Regions from separate parts of the Homo sapiens genome. Here all the other regions are reported to be linked to region 1. Evidence: microRNA targets listed by miRTarBase, many of them from high-throughput screens and not tested one by one. Region 1 holds a microRNA gene; each other region holds the end of a gene's coding sequence.

What was found. The annotated mature microRNA hsa-miR-181c-5p reads AACAUUCAACCUGUCGGUGAGU and lies in region 1 at 1,210-1,231, shown strand. An mRNA with a match to its seed (bases 2 to 7 or 8) in the 3' UTR can be bound and repressed. Matches are read on the target gene's strand: a 7mer-m8 pairs with bases 2 to 8, a 7mer-A1 pairs with bases 2 to 7 and ends in A, and an 8mer does both.
Region 2: the mRNA of GSKIP is a reported target of hsa-miR-181c-5p. Seed matches in the 3' UTR shown: 8mer at 1,053-1,060 and 7mer-m8 at 1,219-1,225.
Region 3: miRTarBase lists DUSP5 as a target of hsa-miR-181c-5p. Seed matches in the 3' UTR shown: 7mer-m8 at 1,605-1,611.

Annotation. Positions count from the first base shown.
Region 1 is chr19:13,873,516-13,876,687 of GRCh38, forward strand. It overlaps MIR181C (microRNA 181c), which reads left to right and starts at 1,184; the gene lies at 1,184-1,293. MIR181D (microRNA 181d) reads left to right here and starts at 1,360; the gene lies at 1,360-1,496. It also overlaps a transcript of NANOS3 not described here.
Region 2 is chr14:96,385,296-96,388,295 of GRCh38, forward strand. GSKIP (GSK3B interacting protein) reads left to right here. Exons shown (of 4, transcript NM_016472.5): 4 at 228-1,993. The coding sequence ends at 389. Among named protein-coding and RNA genes, the nearest start is that of AK7, 5.3 kb to the right of the region's middle.
Region 3 is chr10:110,509,851-110,512,850 of GRCh38, forward strand. DUSP5 (dual specificity phosphatase 5) reads left to right here. Exons shown (of 4, transcript NM_004419.4): 4 at 170-1,683. The coding sequence ends at 576. Among named protein-coding and RNA genes, the nearest start is that of DUSP5, 13 kb to the left of the region's middle. RefSeq lists enhancers at 2,342-2,421, 2,852-2,901, 2,982-3,000.

The DNA.
Region 1 (3,172 bases):
TGGAATACAGTGGCGCGATCACGGCTCACTGCAGCCTCGAGCCTCGAACTCTTGGGGTCCAAGCGATCCTCCCATCTCAGCCTCCTAAGTAGCTAAGACTACAGGCTCACTACACCACACCCAGCTAATTTTTTTGTAGGGACAGGTATCTCGCTATGTTGCTCAGGTTGGTCTCCATCTCCTGGGCTCAAAAGATCCTCCCGCCTCAGCCTCCCAAAATACTGAATTACAGGCCTGAGCCGCAGCACCCGGCCATGCCGGGTGCACCTTCCTAGGCCGTCCGCAGACCCAGGTCAGGGGCGAAGGCGCGCTCGCCCATCCCTGGTCGTCACTGCTTGGCTTGCGGGGGGTGGGAGATAGGGGTGCGTACCTGTAGGCCTGGGGGCACCCGGGGCGGGGGGGTGGTCGCCGAACTCTGTGCGATCACTGGAGGAAGGGACTGGGGGTCATTTGAGGGATGAGGAAATGGAGAGGGGGCGCCGCAGCCGGTTTTGAGGCCCAAGGGGCAGCCCCCACGTGGCTGCGCGGACTCCCTCCGGAAGTGCCCGAGTTCAGATGCTGTGTGACCGCGCACGCGGGGCGAGCGGCGCCCTCTCTGAACCTCCTGCCTCTCCCCTGTCTAGTGGGGCCCCAGTGCACTTGTAAAGTGGAGAGACCTGACGACCCCCCACCCCCAAGCGCTCCACTCACGCTGTTGTGATTCCTAAACCATCGTGCCCGGAACTCAGTGAAGCTCCCAGAACGTATTACATTGTATTAAAATGGCTTGTTTATCTCCACGTTGCATCAATGCCCTCGGGGCCAGGATCCTCCGTTGCCAGACTTCCCGGGAACACTTGGAATGCCTCCTCCACCTCGGACTAGCAGTGGCCTTTGGCCTCAGTCTCCCCAGTTGACAAAGGGGGGTAATCTGCACCTCCAGGATCACTTTGTGAATTACTTAAGGAGCGGGCTTGAGGCCAGCACTCCCCTGCACTGCTACATCTCCATCCCCATAGCAAAGGCTACATTTTATTTACTAGCATTTATATTTGCCTTGTGTTTTTCCCAGATCTAGGTGCAAACAGCACCTGAAAAGCGTTTGTTTATTTCATGAGAGAAAAGGGGTTCCTTACTCTCTCCTCCTCTCCCTCTTCATGCTCTCTGGTTCCCTGCCACCTACCCCACCCCCGACTCCAGGTCCCGGAAAATTTGCCAAGGGTTTGGGGGAACATTCAACCTGTCGGTGAGTTTGGGCAGCTCAGGCAAACCATCGACCGTTGAGTGGACCCTGAGGCCTGGAATTGCCATCCTCCTGCCGGTGACTCTGACCTTCCAGATCTAGGGGGGCCTGGGGAGCCCCCAATCCAGCCTGGGCACGTCCCCTCCCCTAGGCCACAGCCGAGGTCACAATCAACATTCATTGTTGTCGGTGGGTTGTGAGGACTGAGGCCAGACCCACCGGGGGATGAATGTCACTGTGGCTGGGCCAGACACGGCTTAAGGGGAATGGGGACTGGGGACAGGACCCCCCACCGCCACAGTCACTCAGCCTGTTTTTTGCCCTGACCCCAACCACTCCTCTTTGGAGAGGAGAGCTGGTGTCTGGAATCTGGATGGGCTCTGGCTGGATTTGGGACTAAATATTAGAGGGTTGGGGGTAAACAGGCTGGGGCAGGGCAGCTAAAATCCCCTTTTTTTTTTTTTTTTAAGACAGAGTCTCACTCTGTTGCCTAGGCTGGAGTGCAGTGGCCCAATCTCAGCTCACTGCAACCTCTGCCTCCAGGGTTTGAGTGATTCTCTGGCCTCAGCCTCCCAAGTAGCTGGGATTACAGGCATCTGCCACCACAGTGGGCTAATTTTTGTATTTTTAGTAGAGACGAGATTTCACTGTGTTGGCCAGGCTGGTCTCAAACTCCTGACCTCAAGTAATCCTCCCCCCTCGGCCTCCCAAAGTGCTGGGATTACAGGCATGAGCCACTTTGCCTGGCCTAAAACCCCTTTCTGAAATGTGGGTGGTAAGTTCTGCTCCGTGGAGTGCTCCATAGTTTTGTTTTTTAAATTAGAGACAGGATCTCGCTCTTGTCACCCAGGCTGGAGTGCAATGGTGTGACCTTAGCTCACTGCAGCCTCTAATAACTGGAGTCAAGCGTTGATCCTCCCGCCTCAGCCTCCCCAGTAGCCGGAACCACGGGCACGCACCACCACACCTAGCTTATTTCGAAAAAGTGTTTTTGTAGGAACAGGGTCTCAAAACGTTGCCCAGGCTGGTCTCCAACTCCTAGGTTCAAGCAATCCTCCTCGGCCTCTCAAAATGAGCCACAGTGCCTGGCCAATAAAAGTTTCTTAAATGAATGGATGGGTGGATGAGCTGTGTAAGCGGCACAGCGTCTCTCCTCTGTGTCCAAGTCCTGAGCACACCCTCCCCTCCTGGGACTGAGCTGAGATCTCATCTCGGGGAGGACACTGAAGACCTGTAGGTACTAGGGGTCCCCTCCTAACAGCCCAACTTGCTATCCCCCACCTCCCAACTCCAGAGGGTTCTTTCTCACCCCTCTGCAGCCCCCGCCAGGAAAGGGCTCCCTCCCCAGCACCTAGCCTCAGGGGGCCCCAGTAACTAGAAGAAGGAGGCAGATGTGGTGCTTTTTGTTGTTGTTGTTTTGAGACAGAGTCTTACTCTGTTTCCCAGGCTGGAGTGCAGTGGCTTGATCTTGGCTCACCGCAACCTCTGCCTCCTGGGTTCAAGCAATTCTTCTGCCTCAGCCTCCTGAGTAGCTGGGATCACAGGCACCCGCCACCATGCCCAGCTAATTTTGTGTGTGTGTGTGTGTGTGTGTGTATTTTTAGTAGAGACAGGGTTTCACCATGTTAGCCAGGCTGGTCTCGAACTCTTGACCTCAGGTGATCCGCCTGTCTTGGCCTCCCAAACTGTTGGGATGACAGGCATGAGCCACCACTCCCTGGCCTGGTGCATGTCTTTATAAATAACTGGATGGGCAGGTGGCTTCACACCTCAGTTTGCTCATCCATTCAATGGGGGTTCCACTAAGACAACCGATGTGAAAACTCTTGGAGGGAGACCAGAGCTGGGGGCCGGGGGGCATGATCCTTCCCCCCTACCCCCGCAACCAGCCCATGAGCCTGGGACTACCACACTCCTTTCAGAGACAGCTGGAGCATCAGCAACCTCCCG
Region 2 (3,000 bases), not on the chromosome of region 1:
GTGTTATACATTATAAGTTGCTGAAGTATTAAAGGTTGTATTTAAAATGTGTATACTCTGACTTTGAGAAATAGTTTCACTCAGTTACCCATGTATCTGGTGGTCTAGTGGCTAGGAAAAGAAATAATTTATTTTTTTGAAAGGATGATTACTCACATAAACACTTGGATTTTGCTTTCTGTACCAACATGAAAACTAATGAATTCACTGTTGCATTTCTCTTGTAGGTGGTAGGCTATGCTTTTGACCAGGTAGATGATCATTTACAGACTCCCTACCATGAAACAGTCTACTCCTTGTTGGATACACTCAGCCCCGCCTACCGAGAAGCATTTGGAAACGCACTGCTTCAAAGACTGGAAGCTTTGAAAAGAGATGGACAGTCATGACTACACTTTTTCCTTTCAGAGGGGCTGGTGCTGGTACAGAATGTTGATATAAAGCTTAAAATTCTTGCATATGGTCATAGAAAATGCATCTTTGGTTTTGTGTTTTTATCACTTGCTTCCAACTTAGGCTTTTGGCTCAGAAGATTATTGAATAATGATTTGTCTTAGTTTCTGTTTCAGTAAGGGAATTCTGAGGCCGTTGCTATGATACCATCATTAAGACATTCACATGTCTTCATATAATATCTCTTCATTTCAAATCCTAATCACTATTTCATACTATTACAGGGCTTTGATGCTGCCAGCACTGTCTTTTACATAGGAAATTCTAGATTTGCACAGTAATAGAGGAATTAGAAGTACCTAACTATACACTTTGATTCAGCCTGCTAAATCAGGGGTTCAATACTAGCTTGGACAAACTTTGTAGTAATTAATTGCTACCAGCCTTATTGGAAACAAATTATCAACTAGTTTCCCCTGCACAAATTTTGAAATTCACTGCTTCACTTAATCTATTTATATTACTAATAATGGATTAATAAAGATGAATTAATTATATATTACTTAACTAGTATTAAATGAAAAACAGGGACTGAAATAGTTCTGTATTCCGTGTTTGCAACAGCCAGCCAACTAAGCAGAGGATAAACCGTTAGCAAATGAATGTAATAATTACTCATTTCCAAGATATCTAAGCACATAAGCAAATACAGGAACAGACTTCATTCTTTTTCTTAACAAAAAAGCATCTTCAGTGTGTGATTTAAAAGAAAGAAGATTCTGGTTTCCTAGAAAACAATATTTTGGCCTGTGTTGATTCTTATTCTGAATGTGTGTTTACATAATGTACAGTATATATTCAGAAAGTATTTTTGCTTCAACGTTTACTTTCTATGATGTAGTGCTTTGGTATTCCTACAGCACCCCACCTTCCCCAACAGATGTACAGTGTTCTGTCTCCATTCGAAATCTACAATGTAATATGAGTGCATTGTATGGGTTTGAAACCAAAGGATGAATGAAGCATTCAGAGACTTAATATTTGAAAAAGGAATAGTCAGTATTTTATATTTTATTACAGGTACTGATATTTATAAATTTAATAAACTGTACCATGCTGCTGCATGTTTTCAAGTACATGTTGAACAGTAAGGATTGGGGAGTTGTTTTTTAATGGTCACCTAAAGCAGCTGCTATAGAAATGTTGAACTAAAATTTTGCATCTGGTCATACCTTCATGCATTTATCATTTGCAGATATTTTTCCATCATTATTAAAAAACAGGAACTTTTAGGCTCTGAAGATCATGTGGACCAGAGCAAATTAAAGTTCAGTTTGTGTCACAATTCATTGCCAGACTTCATTGGAATGCTTTGTTTGATGATGTATGTTCATTCTCAGCTTTATTTTCAGATGCTTAACTGGGCAACGAAGTCTAACTTCAGGTTGAACTTTCTCATGTTTAATCTCAGGCTAAATGTAAATGATATTTGTAAAGTTTGAATAAAATTCTGTTTACTCATTTTGAGTTAGTATGAAAAAAAGTGATTGTATGTTTAAGAATTGAAATTGTTCATTTTGTGATAAATGATTAATTCCAAGAGCTTGTTTCCATTTTTTAATTCTGCATTGTTACATTTGGATTTGAAATGACTGAAGTGAGCTTTCTCTTGTTACTACTATGAAAGAGCAATGAGGAACAAGAGGAGAGGACATTAATAAAACTACACAGATATACATGAGAATCTAGATATTAAAACCTCCATTTTACCTGGTCTGTTTAAAGAACTTAACCAGCAGATAGGCCAGGTGTCGTGGCTCACACTTGCAATTCCAGTGGTTTGGGAGGCCCAGGCAGGAGGATCACTTGAGGCCAGGAGTGCAAGACAGCCTGCGCAACATAGATCCCATTTCTACAAAAAATTATAAAAGCATGGCCTGGTGACACATGCCTGCAGTCCTAGCTATTAGGAAAGCTGAAGCATGAAGATTGCTTGAGCCCAGGAATTGGAGACTGCAGTGAGCTACAATCGTGCTGCTGCGCTCCAGCCTGGATGACAGAACAAGACCCTGTCTCTTAAAAAAAAAAAAAAAAAATGAAAATTATAAAACTTAACCAGATAAATTAAGCCTTGATTTCACTTCTAAAGGAAAAAGAAAAAAAAAACTTTTATATAAATAACTTTTACAAATCAGTAGGAAGAAAAAATGCAAACAGTGGGCAAATAATATGGTCAACTCAGAAAAAAAAATAGATGTCAGTAACTACTTGAAAGAGGCCCAACCCAACCATTAACTCAAGAAAGAGAAATTTTAAGTTATTGGGTCATTTCACCTGCTACTTTTGTGATTCTTCTTATTTAAACTTAATACCAGTAAGGATTTAATGAGGAAGCACTCTTACATTCTATTGGAGGGTATATTGTTGAAATCTTTCTGGAAACATTGGTAATAAATCCTTTACAAGTTTATAACTTCTGAATTGGTAATATACTAGCAACCTAGCATAGGGAAATGATTCAGCAAAAAAACTAGTATATAAGGATGTTCATTTCCCCTAATGAAAAATTGGGAAGGCTCTAAAGAGTGGTAAAGTGATGCTACATCT
Region 3 (3,000 bases), not on the chromosome of region 1:
TCCTCACCAGTGGGGATTAAAGACTGGCAGAAGTGTAGTGTAGGGCCGTGGCTCTTAGGCAGGCACAACAGTTTCATATCTAGGTTACTCCAGTGTTTGATTCTTGTGTTTTGCCATTGCCCTTAGATTCTAATCCCAACTCACTCCCACCATCTTTTCTTCCTTCCAGACTGTGTCAGGGAAAAGGGAGGCAAGGTCCTGGTCCACTGTGAGGCTGGGATCTCCCGTTCACCCACCATCTGCATGGCTTACCTTATGAAGACCAAGCAGTTCCGCCTGAAGGAGGCCTTCGATTACATCAAGCAGAGGAGGAGCATGGTCTCGCCCAACTTTGGCTTCATGGGCCAGCTCCTGCAGTACGAATCTGAGATCCTGCCCTCCACGCCCAACCCCCAGCCTCCCTCCTGCCAAGGGGAGGCAGCAGGCTCTTCACTGATAGGCCATTTGCAGACACTGAGCCCTGACATGCAGGGTGCCTACTGCACATTCCCTGCCTCGGTGCTGGCACCGGTGCCTACCCACTCAACAGTCTCAGAGCTCAGCAGAAGCCCTGTGGCAACGGCCACATCCTGCTAAAACTGGGATGGAGGAATCGGCCCAGCCCCAAGAGCAACTGTGATTTTTGTTTTTAAGACTCATGGACATTTCATACCTGTGCAATACTGAAGACCTCATTCTGTCATGCTGCCCCAGTGAGATAGTGAGTGGTCACCAGGCTTGCAAATGAACTTCAGACGGACCTCAGGGTAGGTTCTCGGGACTGAAGGAAGGCCAAGCCATTACGGGAGCACAGCATGTGCTGACTACTGTACTTCCAGACCCCTGCCCTCTTGGGACTGCCCAGTCCTTGCACCTCAGAGTTCGCCTTTTCATTTCAAGCATAAGGCAATAAATACCTGCAGCAACGTGGGAGAAAGAAGTTGCTGGACCAGGAGAAAAGGCAGTTATGAAGCCAATTCATTTTGAAGGAAGCACAATTTCCACCTTATTTTTTGAACTTTGGCAGTTTCAATGTCTGTCTCTGTTGCTTCGGGGCATAAGCTGATCACCGTCTAGTTGGGAAAGTAACCCTACAGGGTTTGTAGGGACATGATCAGCATCCTGATTTGAACCCTGAAATGTTGTGTAGACACCCTCTTGGGTCCAATGAGGTAGTTGGTTGAAGTAGCAAGATGTTGGCTTTTCTGGATTTTTTTTGCCATGGGTTCTTCACTGACCTTGGACTTTGGCATGATTCTTAGTCATACTTGAACTTGTCTCATTCCACCTCTTCTCAGAGCAACTCTTCCTTTGGGAAAAGAGTTCTTCAGATCATAGACCAAAAAAGTCATACCTTCGAGGTGGTAGCAGTAGATTCCAGGAGGAGAAGGGTACTTGCTAGGTATCCTGGGTCAGTGGCGGTGCAAACTGGTTTCCTCAGCTGCCTGTCCTTCTGTGTGCTTATGTCTCTTGTGACAATTGTTTTCCTCCCTGCCCCTGGAGGTTGTCTTCAAGCTGTGGACTTCTGGGATTTGCAGATTTTGCAACGTGGTACTACTTTTTTTTTCTTTTTGTCTGTTAGTTATTTCTCCAGGGGAAAAGGCAATAATTTTCTAAGACCCGTGTGAATGTGAAGAAAAGCAGTATGTTACTGGTTGTTGTTGTTGTTCTTGTTTTTTATAGTGTAAAATAAAAATAGTAAAAGGAGAAAAGCACTTCTTCATGTTGTTGGTGAATTGGGATAAGGTAGGAATACCCTTGGGTGGGGACCCAGCCTGCTTCATTGGGATTTATTTGTAAATGAACAACAGGGTGATGGTGGTGGAGGTGCAGCTATAGGCATGACGATACAGAATGTTGCTTTCCAACTGAGGGGTTTCCCTAAGCTAACCGGCAAGAGAATTCCTTAGTGCAGGCCTCATAGGGAGGTGGTGAGAGTATCTGCCCACTCAGGGCCCTTCACTGCCATCGCACTAGGCAAAGAGCTCTACTTGAACCTCAGATTCCTCACCTGTGAAGAGTGAGCTGAGTTAGATGATCCCAAGAGTCCCTTAAAGCATAAGGCCCTTGGTTCCAGTAAGCCTGAGTGCCAAGCTTGTGGCCAGCTACCTCCCTCCAGTGCCTGGCATATGGCAGACTCAGAAAAGGCTGGGTAAGTGGCCAAGGGATGGAGAAGTGAATGAGGTGAAAGTTTGCCCTGCCAGCCTGCCTGACGCCCTCTTTCCACTCTTGCAACTAATTCTAGATAATTCCCCAGGAGTTCCAACGTAAATCCCTCAATGAGTAGGTTTAAATCCAAGGCTGAATCGACTTGCTTTGTGAGTAACTTCCTCTGCGTAGGTGGAGGAAGGAAGGGGCAGTTGTCAGCTTCTCCCCATGATTGGCTCTGCCTGGGCTCCAGCCTAACTCCTGGGTCCTGTTCCTAATCTGAGGGAACAGGGAGCTGGTTGGGGTTTATGCCATCCCAGTCAGCTGATAAATAACAGGGATTCCAGCCATACTTCTCAATGCTGGAGGGTCCAAAGGGTGTCCAGTTCTCCCGACATGCATTGTGTCAACAAATAGCAAGATGGTGGCAGAGCACAGGCAGCCCAGCTCTCTAAATTCCTCACCTCAAAGGCTTTGCGTGAGGTCTTTCTCTCCACCTGTCTTTCCTTTCCCCAACTGTGTTCAGAGGTTCCTTGGAAAGTCCACAGATGAGAAGGTCACCCAGGGTTAGGATGCTGAATTTCTTTCAGCCCACTCCCCTCATCTGTGTAACCAAACAGCTTCCACAGTGAAGAGCACTAGACCAGATGGTGAGAAGTTGTGGGTTCTAGCCCTTGCCCTTCCCCCAGCTCTCCAGTGGTTTGGAGCTAATCTCCAACCTCTGTGGACTAGATTTCTCCAGGGCTCTTATCTAGCTGGTGCCTAATCCCTCGTGGTGTCCCATCTCTGAGCCTCTGACCAGCCTTGGAGTGTGTCCCTGAAGCCTGCCCATTGTGTGGGCCTATGCAGGTGCTGAGTGGCTAAAGGAACCTT